2 separate regions of the Homo sapiens genome follow, and region 2 is linked to region 1. A link means that fine-mapping ties the variant in region 1 to the expression of a gene that starts in the linked region. Tissue or cell type: whole blood. Region 1 holds a variant in brackets; the other region holds the start of a gene. All regions are shown on one strand. Distances are between the middles of the regions.

Region 1 (5,319 bases):
GCTTGAACCCAGGAGGCAGAGGTTGCGGTGAGCCAACATTGCACCATGACACTACAGCCTGGGCAACAAGAGCGAAACTCCATCTCAAAACAAAAACAAAAAACCAGCATGATTTCAAGAGCAGAAAGAGAAGAGCTTAAAAACCAGCATAATGAGAAAGTTAGGAAGTTTCTTACCAAAGCATCTGGAAATATGCAAGCAATTCTTGTGAAGTAAAATTTTCATACTGTGCTATGAAACACTGGAACTCACTTATTCCATCTTTCTGTATTTTGGGACCCAATTATCCACTTGTCTTCATTCCCTATCGCACCCCTTTTCTTCCTAGCGTCTGCTGATCACCTTTATACTTTCCACCTTCCTGAGATTCCTTTTGTGTGTAGGTGTGTGATGGAGTCTCTTTCTGTTACCCAGGTTGGAGTACACAGGCACAATCAGGGCTCACTGCAAGCTCCACCTCCCAAGTTCAAGCGCTTCTTGGGCCTCAGCCCTCTGAGTAGCTGAGACTACAGGCACGCGTCACCACGCCCGGCTCATTGTTTGTGTTTTCCGTAGAGACAGGGTTTCACCATGTTGGCCAAGCTGATCTCGAACTCCTGGACTCAAGTGATCCGTGCGACTCGGCCTCCTAGAGTGCTGGGATTACAGGCCTGAGCCACAACACCTGGCCAAGGTTTCCTTTTTTCTTCTTACATAGAAGTGAGGACATGAAATATTTGTCATTCTGTGCCTGGCTTCTTTCATTTAATATACAGACCTGCAATCTCATCCATTTTGTCTGCAGCGGAGAGGAGTTTCTTCCTTTTTCGGCTGAATAATACTTCACTGGGTGTGTATACCACAGTTTCTTCATTGAAACAAATTTCTGAAGAGCAAATATTTTTAAAATGTCTCAGAATGTGAAACCTCAGGGATACTGTGTCCATTTTATTCTTTTCTATTTCCTATCTTATGTATATGCAAGTGTATAACAAAGCAGCAATCAATGTGTGTATAAATCTACAACTTCAACAAATGTAAAATGTAAATGCTAAGTGGTGGCTGGGCGCAGTCGCTCATGCCTGTAATCCCAGCACTTTGGGAGGCGGAAGCGGGCGGATCACCTGAGGTCGGGAGTTCAAGACCAGCCTGACCAAAATGGAGAAACACTGTCTCTATTAACAATATAAAAAAAAAAAAAAATTAGCCAGGCATGGTAGCGCATGCCTGTAATCCCAGGTACTTGGAAGGCTGAGACAGGAGAATTGCTCGAATACGGGAGGCAGAGGCTGCAGTGAGCCGAGACCGTGCCATTGAACTCCAGCCTGGGCAACAAGAGTGAAAATCTGACTCAAAAAATAAGGAAAAGAAAGAAATAGAAAATGCGAAATGGTAAGAAACAACAACATAATAAACATTTGTATGGTGTTGATGGACAATGCATTTGAAGATAATATTTGAAGAAATCATATTACAATTAATTTCTGTTCTTACTCATTGGAGCTTGATGCCTCTAAAAACTTCGTCATTGGAACCACCTCTGGTGCTTTAAAAGAAAAAAAAAAAAATCCACATACTCACACAGGTGCAAGGAAATCAGAATCTCAGGTATTGAGACCCAGGCCTCATCATTTGTAAGCTCCCCAGGTGATTTGACTCAAAGCCAAGATTGAGGAATGGCGACATGGATCTCTACACAGAACCTGCCTAAATAGATTCTCTAGAAGCAGTTTATAAAGATATTCCACGTGGACTGTGGAAGAGGATATGAATTTGATGTACAGCATGTCCTCACTTAACATCTTTGAAAGTCTCTTGGAAACTTCACCTTTAAGCAAAATTATGTATAGTGAAACCACTTATTTTTCATCAACAGTATAACTACACATCTTTGAACAACTGATGGTGTTGGAGGACCTCCTGTACATTGTTTCCATAAAGTCAGTTTTCAGGGAATTCCAAAAGGAAGTGAGGACTTCGTGTATATAAAAAGATGGTTGTGATTCCACCTGGATGACAGGGTTATTGCTCAGAAACTAAAAGAGGCCACCTAGGTATAGAGGATTCTGTCATGAGGTTTCTGCTAAACAAAGGGTCCCAGAATCCTCACCCATTCCAGTGAAAGGCATAGCGAAGAAAGCAATATTCACAAAGGAAATG[T/C]GGAAAGGAATAAAAGCCATCAAGCCACAGAAAGAATGTGACTAAGGGGCAGGATTTGCAGATGTAGAGATTTAATGTGGTTGCCCTTTCTCACCCACACAAGAGAAAGGATGGAACAAATCATGAGATTCGACTGTTGTGCTGTGCAGCCTCCACAGGGCACTTTGTATGTTCCTGTTTCTCAGGCTGTAGATGAAAAGGTTCAGCATGGGGGTGACCACAGCATACATCACTGATGCCACCACACCATTCCTGGGGGGTTGTGACACAGCTGAAGTCAGGTACATGCCAATGCCTGTTCCATAAAATCAGCAAACAACGGCTAGGTGAGAGCCACAGGTGGAGAAGGCTTTATACTTCCCATCTGACGATGAAATCCTTAGAATGGAGGGGATGATTTTATAGTAAGACCATAGGATCCCTGAAATGGGAAGAAAACCAAACATAGTACTATCGAAATATATGAATATGCTATTGATGACGCTGTCAGAACAGGCAAGTTTGAGAAGTTGAGAGGGGTCACAGACAAAATTAGAGATTTCCAAATTCTAGACGATGGTGAATTGTAACACAATCCAACTGTGCAGCTGGGAATCCAACAGGCTAAGGAAAAAGGACACCAAAACGAAGACACAGAGGTGAGGATTCACGATGACTGGGTAGTGCAGAGGGCGACAGATGGCTACAAAGCAGTCATAGGCCATCACAGTCAGGAGCATGCCTTCTATACATGCAAAAAGGACCAAGAAAGACATCTGCGTCAGACAGCCCGCATGAGACGTGACTCTGCTATGCGACTGCATGTCCACAATCATCTTGGGAACCGTGGCGGAGGTGAAACCGATGTCAGCCCAGCACAGGTTGGAGAGGAAGAAGTACCTGGGGGTGTGGAGGGGGGAGTCAGAGCAGACAGCCAGGATGCTGAGCAGGTTCCTCAGCACCGTGACCAGATACATGGACAGGGACAGGGACAGCAAAGCGAGGATAGGCTGCAGTTCTGGGTCCTCTGAGAGTCCCAGGAGGAGGAATTCTCAGACACCTGTGAGATTCCGTGGCTCTGTGTGTCTTGGACACCTTGAGAAGGAAAGAGGATTGGAAAAATAGCAGATAAAAACCAGCCCTTAATGCTGGATGCAAGCAATTCACAAGGAACATCTTCACACTTGCGGACCATACACCGCCAGCAATGTTTCTCAGTTGTGACAATTCCAAAAAATCTCAGAATTATTACGTGATTTACTTTTTTGCTATACAAGGCTTTCTGTACATACTACTTTAGAGAAAATCCACTGAAGAATATCAGAGACCAAAACGTTATATATAACAAATCCGTGATCTCAGTAAAATACGGCCTACTCTTTTCAGAAAAAATACAATGCAATGACAATGTCCTTTCTCTTGAAGAAAAAGATCTCAGTCTAATTGAAAGAAATTAAGAAGCCGTGAAATGCACTCTACTTTATTCTGACCCCGTGCTACAACTTCCATTGATGTAGAATATGTAAAAGGACGACACAAGAGCTAGGACCCCATTATCTGAAAACGACATCGAACCTTATAGTTCTCAATCGAAAGATTTTCACATGCCTGTTACTTTTCATATTTATTATCATCCTTCGGTTTTCTGACATCACTTCTTCATAAAAGTACATGCACGCTCAAAGATGGGAGCTGTGTTTCCAAATGAATTGAATCTATAACTCTTGGCCCAGCACCATGGCTCACACCTGTAATCCCAGCACTTTGGGTAGCCGAGGCTGATGGATCACCTGAGGTCAGGAGTTCCAGACCAGCCTGGCCAACGTGGTGAAACCCCGTCTCCAGTGAAAATAAAAAAACATTAGCCGGGTGTGGTGGCGGGTAACCCTAGCTACTCGGGAGGCTGAAGCAGGAGAATCCCTTAGAACCTGGAAGGCAGAGATTGGAAACCCTGTGATAGGATTTTTGACAGCCTAGGGAGATATTGCACCTGACAGCAGAGTCGGCGTACACCCTGTGATATTATTTGTAATATCCTAGAAAGATATTTCTCCTAATATCACAGTGGCTGTACACCCTGTGATCTTAATTGTAATATCCTACAGAGATATTACTCCCAATAATACAGTGGGTGTACACCCTGTGATATTATTCATAATATATTACAGAGATACGACTCCTGATATCACAGTGAGTGTACACCATGTTTGTACACCCTGTGATCTTATTTGTAACAACTTAGAAAAATATTACAGCTAATATCAAAATGGGTGTGCACCCTGCGATGTTATTTGTTTTCTACTAGGTAGATATTACTCCTAATATCACAGTGAGTGTACACCATGTGTGTGCAGACTGTGAAATTATTCATAATACTCTAGGAAGATATTATTCCTCATATCACAGTGGGTGTACACCGTGAGTGATTTTTTTTCTAATATCCAGCGGGGGAGAGGATGATATTGCTTCCAATATCACGGAAGGTGTACACCCCGTTGTGATATTGTTCCTAATATCCAGGGAAGGAGAGGATGACATTATTCCCAATATCACTGGGGGTGTACCACCTCCCTCCGGGATATTGTTCTTATTGTCAGTAGGTGGAGAGAATGATGTTACTCCCAATATCACAGGGGGTGTACACCACCCCTGTCTGTAAACACCCCCTGTGATATTGTACCAAATGGCCTGTGAAAGAGTCAATATTACTCCCATTATCGCAGGGGTGTTCAGACCTGATGATATTGTTTTCTAACATCCAGGGAAGGAGAGTATGCTATTATTCCCAATATAGCAGGGGTTGTACACCTTTTTGTGTTATTGGGCCCAATATCCAGGAAAATAGAAGATGATAGTACTCCCAATATTGAAATAATTGTACAGCACCCTTGTGATATTCTTCCTAATATCCAGAAAGGAAAAGAATGATATTACTCCCAACAGCGTAGGAAATGTATACCCGCTCTGTGATATCTTTCCCCATATCCAGGTGGGGAGAGGATCATATTACTTCCAATATCGCAGGGTGTGTACACCCCCTCTGTGATCTCGTTGCTAACATCCAGGTTTGGGGAGGATGACATGACTCCCAATATCTCAGGGGGAGTTCACCCCCCATGACCTTGTTTGTCATTTCCTTGGTGGAGAGGATGATATTACTCCCAATATCGCAGGGGGTGTACACACCCCTGTGAAAATCTT
Region 2 (5,173 bases), 29 kb after region 1:
TGGCTCACACCTGTAATCCCAACACTTTGTGGGGCTGGGGCGGGTGAATTTGAGACTGGCCTGAGCAACATAGCAACTCCCCATCGCTACAAATACTTTAAAAATCAGCCAGATGTGATGGCGTGCGCCTGTAGGCCCAGCTACTCGGGAGGCTGAGGTGGGAGGATTGCTTGAGCCCAGTGTGTGGGGGTTGAGGAGGCAGTGAGCTGTGTTCGTGCCACTGCACTCTAACCTGGGTGACAGAGTGAGACTCTGTCTCAAATAATAATAATAATAAAATAAATAAACACATAATTTAAAAAAAAAAAACAAGGAAACAGATGTAAGCACAGAAGGAACTGCAGTGTCCAATTCCAAGCCACTGTTCAGTGCCACCGTATCTGCAGAAGATGCTACCATTGCAAAGTCGTAACTGTGAAGGCTGTAGAGTAGGCTAAGATATGCTCAGTGAAAAGAAGGAAGCAAGCTCTGGGCACTGTGGCTCATGCCTGTAATCCCAGCACTTTGGGAGGCCAAGGCAGGAGAATCACTTGAGGTCAGGAGTTTAAGACCAGCCTGGTCAACATAGTGAAACCCCATCTCTACTAAAAGTACAAAAATTAACCGGGTGGCAGGCGCCTGTAATCCCAGCTACTCAGGGTGCTGAAGTAGGAGAATCGCTTGAGCCTGGGAGGCAGAGGTTGCAGTGAGCCGAGATCACACCACTGCACTGCAGTCTAGGTGACAGAGCAAGTATCTGTCTCAAAAAAAAAAAAGTAAGCAAGCAAAAGCAAACATAGCCCGCTTGCATACACACACACACACACACACACACACACACACACACGGGCACGTCCACACACGTGCTCTGGGGACAAGGATGTGAATGTAATCCATGCATGCTGGTGGGACAGCATGGGTAGCCGATTTCCTGGAGGGCTTAGATGGGGTTTCTTTTTTATGATTTCAGTTATTCTAATCCTGCCTGTGCAACGGGAGATGTTTTAAATTTTCAAATTTTTGTTTAAATGGAGTTTTCTCTTGTTGTTTTGTTTGTTTGTTTGTTTTAAAGATGAGGGAGCTCAAATTCACCTAATTTGTCCACTGGTCTCCAGGTCCCATCAGGGAGGGCACTGTGGACCGGTGATGGGGAGGCTGAACCACATACCTCCAGGGCTCAGATCTGGGGGAGAGCTCTGGGGCACCTGCCCAGCCATGCCTGTCTGTGAGAAACACCCCCTCAGCACCAGTCACAGCGACTGGGCCAGGCATGGGTGCCTGGACTTTGCTGACCGATCAGAAACCCCTAACTCTACAGCCCCAACCCTGAAGGCCACAGTGGCTCTGGGAGGCCTCCAAGGAGGCCACGAGGAGGGTGCCACGTGAGGCCCAGGCAAGCTGGGAGGGAGCTCAGCCCGTGTGAATCTGTTGCTGGAAACCAAATGTGCCCTGAGGCAAAGTTCCTGTTTCCTTCCCCAAATCCGAGTTTCACCCCCTTCACTCTCAGGCTTCCGGGTAGAAAAAAACCTCTCCCTTGTTCCCTCGCCCCACAAACACCCCGGCAGATGGACACCTCCTGGCCCGCCGGCCTCTGTACCCCTCCGAAATGGGAGTACCGCAGCATCCCACAGGAGCAGCCGCGCCCACCTGATGAGCACAGGTGTGTAGAGCAGGGCGGCGATGGGAGTCACGTTGATGCCCATCAGCATTTTGCTGTCGATGTCGGGCAGCCCCATGTTGCCATACTTCACCTCGCGGTAGGTCTCGTCGTAGTGCAGGATCAGCTGCATCTGCAGGAGGCCTGGGGACAGGACAGAGAGCGGCGTGCAGGGAGCAGCCTAGCTTTGGGCGCCACCGAGCAGAAGACGGCATGCAGGCCTCGCAGGGAGCTCCAATCACCGAAGGCATTCCCGCTGACAGCGCCCCTCAGGACAGCGGGGTTCCCGGGCTGCGCCACGCCTTCTGCCAGCCCGCGGCCACTTGGCCAGCTAAGCCCAGACCCCCACCCGCCTTGCTCCGCCGGCCTCCAATTCTGACGGTGGCAGGTCTGTCCGGGAGCCCGGACCCCCGTCCCCCACCCACACCGAGGCTCTGGCTGGGACCCGGGGACGCTGCGCTACTTGACCCCCCAACCCCACCCCCGCCGCGGGGGGCCGTGGCTGCAGCTGCGAGGGCAGCGGAGGGGAAGTGAGAGCGGGCGGGAGGCGGCGGCCCGCGGTTTCTGTTTCCCGGGCCGGGCTGGGAGCGGGCGGGGCGGCCCCGGGTCCCCGAGCGGCACCTACCCAGGTAGACGCCGTAGGTGAGCATGCCCCCGGCGCTGGCAGCCAGCACGTTCTTGAGCACGCCCAGGCGCTTGCGGCGGTAGTAGCGGCGCTCCTCCTCCTCCTCGTTGTAGTTGGGGTACGCGCCCACCAGCTCGTCCAGCTGCGAGCCACGCACGCCGCTCGCACCCGCGATCGCGCCCCGAACCCGTGTCCCCCGGTGCCCGCCGCCCCCCGGCCCGCCCCGCCCCCGCCGGGGGGACCCTGGCCCACAGGGGACGCCCGCGCCTCGCACTCCGGGTCCCCGCTCACCGGGGCCTCGGGCCCGTCCGGGACCCCGAGCAGGTCCTCGTCGCCCTGCGGCCCCGCAGCCCCCGCCATCGGGTAGAGCGGCGGCTCCGCCTCCATGGCCCGAACTACTGCGGACTCGCGGCGGTCGCCCCGGAGTCCCTGCGACCGCCCGGCCACTTCCTCCCGGCGGCCGGGACCTGCCCCCGCCCCGCCCTGTCCCGCCCTGCGGGCCGCCTCCTCCAGGACACGTGTGTGTGTATGTGTGTGTGCGCGCGCGCGCGCGCGTGTGTGCAGGGGCCTGCCTGTGTGTGCCCTCTGGGGTGTGAGTTCGAATCCCCACTCAGCCACCTCCTGGCCCTGTGACTTTAGGAATTAACTCCATTTCTTTGTGCCTCGGTTTCCTCCGTTTCCTCGACGGTAAAACAGAAATACATGGCACTACCCCCGGGGCCATGGCGGAACTATTGAGTTAATGCAAAGCCTTGGAAAAGTGCCAGGGTTGCCTGGCTCCCTTAAGCTCCCCTCAGGGTTGCCTGGGTCGTCCCCAGCCCCACCTCCAAGCCTGCTGTTACAGCTCATCAAAGAGCACTGCAGGGACAGTAGCGTCACCACCTGGACCCCACCTCCCACCACCGGACGCTACAGCCAGAGCCCACCTCCCATGTCCCCATCCTGCTCCAGTTTGGGCTGTGCAAATGGGAGCTTGAGTGGGTCCTGGGAGGTGGAGATTGTGATCCCCACTGAACTACATGGGGGACCCTGCCACAACCATGTAGTGGGGCCCAGAGCCACCTGCCCCCATCCTGCTGGGCACTGGATCCCGGGCTGCAGCGGGAGCCTGTGGTGGGGCCGACACTCCAAAGCACTGGCTACCACCGACCTGGCTGGAGCCACGGGGCCACTTTTGAAAATATCCAGATTCTCTCCCCTGGGTTCCTTCTGGTTTGAATGCTCTTCCTGCTGCGCCTCCCAGGTGGCTTCCTTCCCACTCAGCTCTCAGAACAAGAGACCATCCCTGCAGAGAATGCAGTCCCTTCACTTCCCTTCTGGTTTTCCATGCCCTCCCTGTGCACCCCCCTCCACCCACTGCTCTTTAGGTACATCCTCTCCCAAATGCAGAGGATGGCATTGGGCACCTACTGAGTGATCAATACTTGTGACTGGATGGGTGCATGAGTGACTGGATGACAAACACCTCCCACCCCGCAAGGATTGCTGGGAAGGTGGGGGGAGGCGTGAATCTGCAGTGGCTTCAGGCTTCCAGGAGGTAGAACTTTCTCCAGGTGACGATGCCCAAGTGCAGATGTGGGGAACAGACAGGTGGATTCATGCAGGTGGGTGGCTGGAAGTGGGAGACAGGAAAGGAGCCGAAGAGAGGGCAGGGCCCGAGGCGCAGGGGCAGGGAGGAGGTGGGAGAGTATGGCTATGGCGGGGGCCGTTCTCAGATGGCAGACACCAGCATCATTACACAGTATGATGAGAAAGTGCAATTCTCCTGACTCAGCCTTGTGAGTAGCTGGAATTACAGGCGTGTGCCCCTACACCCAGCTGATTTTTGTATTTTTAGTAGAGATGGGGTTTCACCATATTGGCCCAGGCTGGTCTCGAACTCCTGACCTCAAGTGATGTACCCGCCTTAGCCCCCAAAGTGCTGGGAGTGGGCCCCCCGAGCTTCTCAATTTCCCTGAGGGACCCCAAACTTCTGGGGCCTGGTGCAATCTCTTCCTCCCCTTGTTCCTCTGGGCCTGGGGGTTGTGGCGGTTGCTATGGTTGCCCATCCTGGGCTCTTCCATCACCTGTGCTGTACCACCAATTCCCTGCACTCAATGTCTCCTACTCAAAACACCTGGAGAGGGTCGGGCGCTGTGGCTCACGCCTGCAATCCCAGCACTTTGGCTGGCCAAGGAGGATCACTTGAGCTCAGGAGTTCAAGACCAGCCTCAACAAAGTGAGACAAACCCCCCCCCCCAACCCATCTCTACAAAAAATACAAAAACTAGCCTGGTGTGATGGTGGACACCTGTAGCCCCAGCTACTCAGGAGGCTGAGGTGGGAGAATTGCTTGAGCCCAGGAGGATGAGGCTGCAGTGAGCTGAGATTGTGCCACTGCATTCCAGCGTGGGTGACAGAGTGAGACCTCTCAAACAAACAAACAAACAAAAAACAAAAAAAACAAAAAACAGCCCTGGAGGCACTAAACCCTGACTGATACACCTCCTCTCTCCAGAAAGGATTTTTTTTTTTAGGTGGTTTATGGAGCTGCTCTTGGGGAGCCTGGAGACTATCTAAGAGGCTGATAGGGTGGCCCAGATAAACACACCAGGGTGACCTGCGGGACAGAGATCTGAGCAGGGCCAGCACCTCCACCAACCCATCCAGGTTGCAACAGTGCACAGTCACATCCCCAGGAAGGGGTGGCCAGATCCCCCCGTGCTCACTGTTTGCCAATGCTTTTCTCTATAATAAGCCTTTACTTTCAGTTCTCATTATGAAAATAATCGATGTTCCTTGCAGAAAAGCAAGCAGAAGAGAATAAATATTGCTCTCAACTGGAACTCCCTGAAACAACCTCTTGGAATATTGTTGCCCCGCATTGCACTGACACAGGAGCGTGCTGGGCAGCCCACGTGATTCCCTTCACA

The links. PIP is the estimated chance that this variant, and not a neighbour inherited with it, causes the effect. A credible set is the group of variants that fine-mapping cannot tell apart.
Region 2: UNC93B1 starts here. The variant in region 1 is the best candidate, but not a certain one, in a credible set for the expression of UNC93B1 in whole blood (INTERVAL, PIP 0.61).

What each region holds. Positions count from the first base shown.
Region 1 is chr11:67,972,001-67,977,319 of GRCh38, forward strand. It overlaps the pseudogene OR7E1P. Among named protein-coding and RNA genes, the nearest start is that of UNC93B1, 29 kb to the right of the region's middle. RefSeq lists an enhancer at 65-565. The variant T/C (reference allele first, on the strand shown) is at 2,140.
Region 2 is chr11:68,001,396-68,006,568 of GRCh38, forward strand. UNC93B1 (unc-93B1 regulator of TLR signaling) reads right to left here and starts at 2,702. Exons shown (of 11, transcript NM_030930.4): 1 at 2,553-2,702; 2 at 2,262-2,403; 3 at 1,627-1,780. The coding sequence starts at 2,648. RefSeq lists enhancers at 1,255-1,454, 1,555-1,604, 1,705-1,754, 2,659-3,202, 3,203-3,745 and silencers at 2,055-2,464, 2,525-2,824.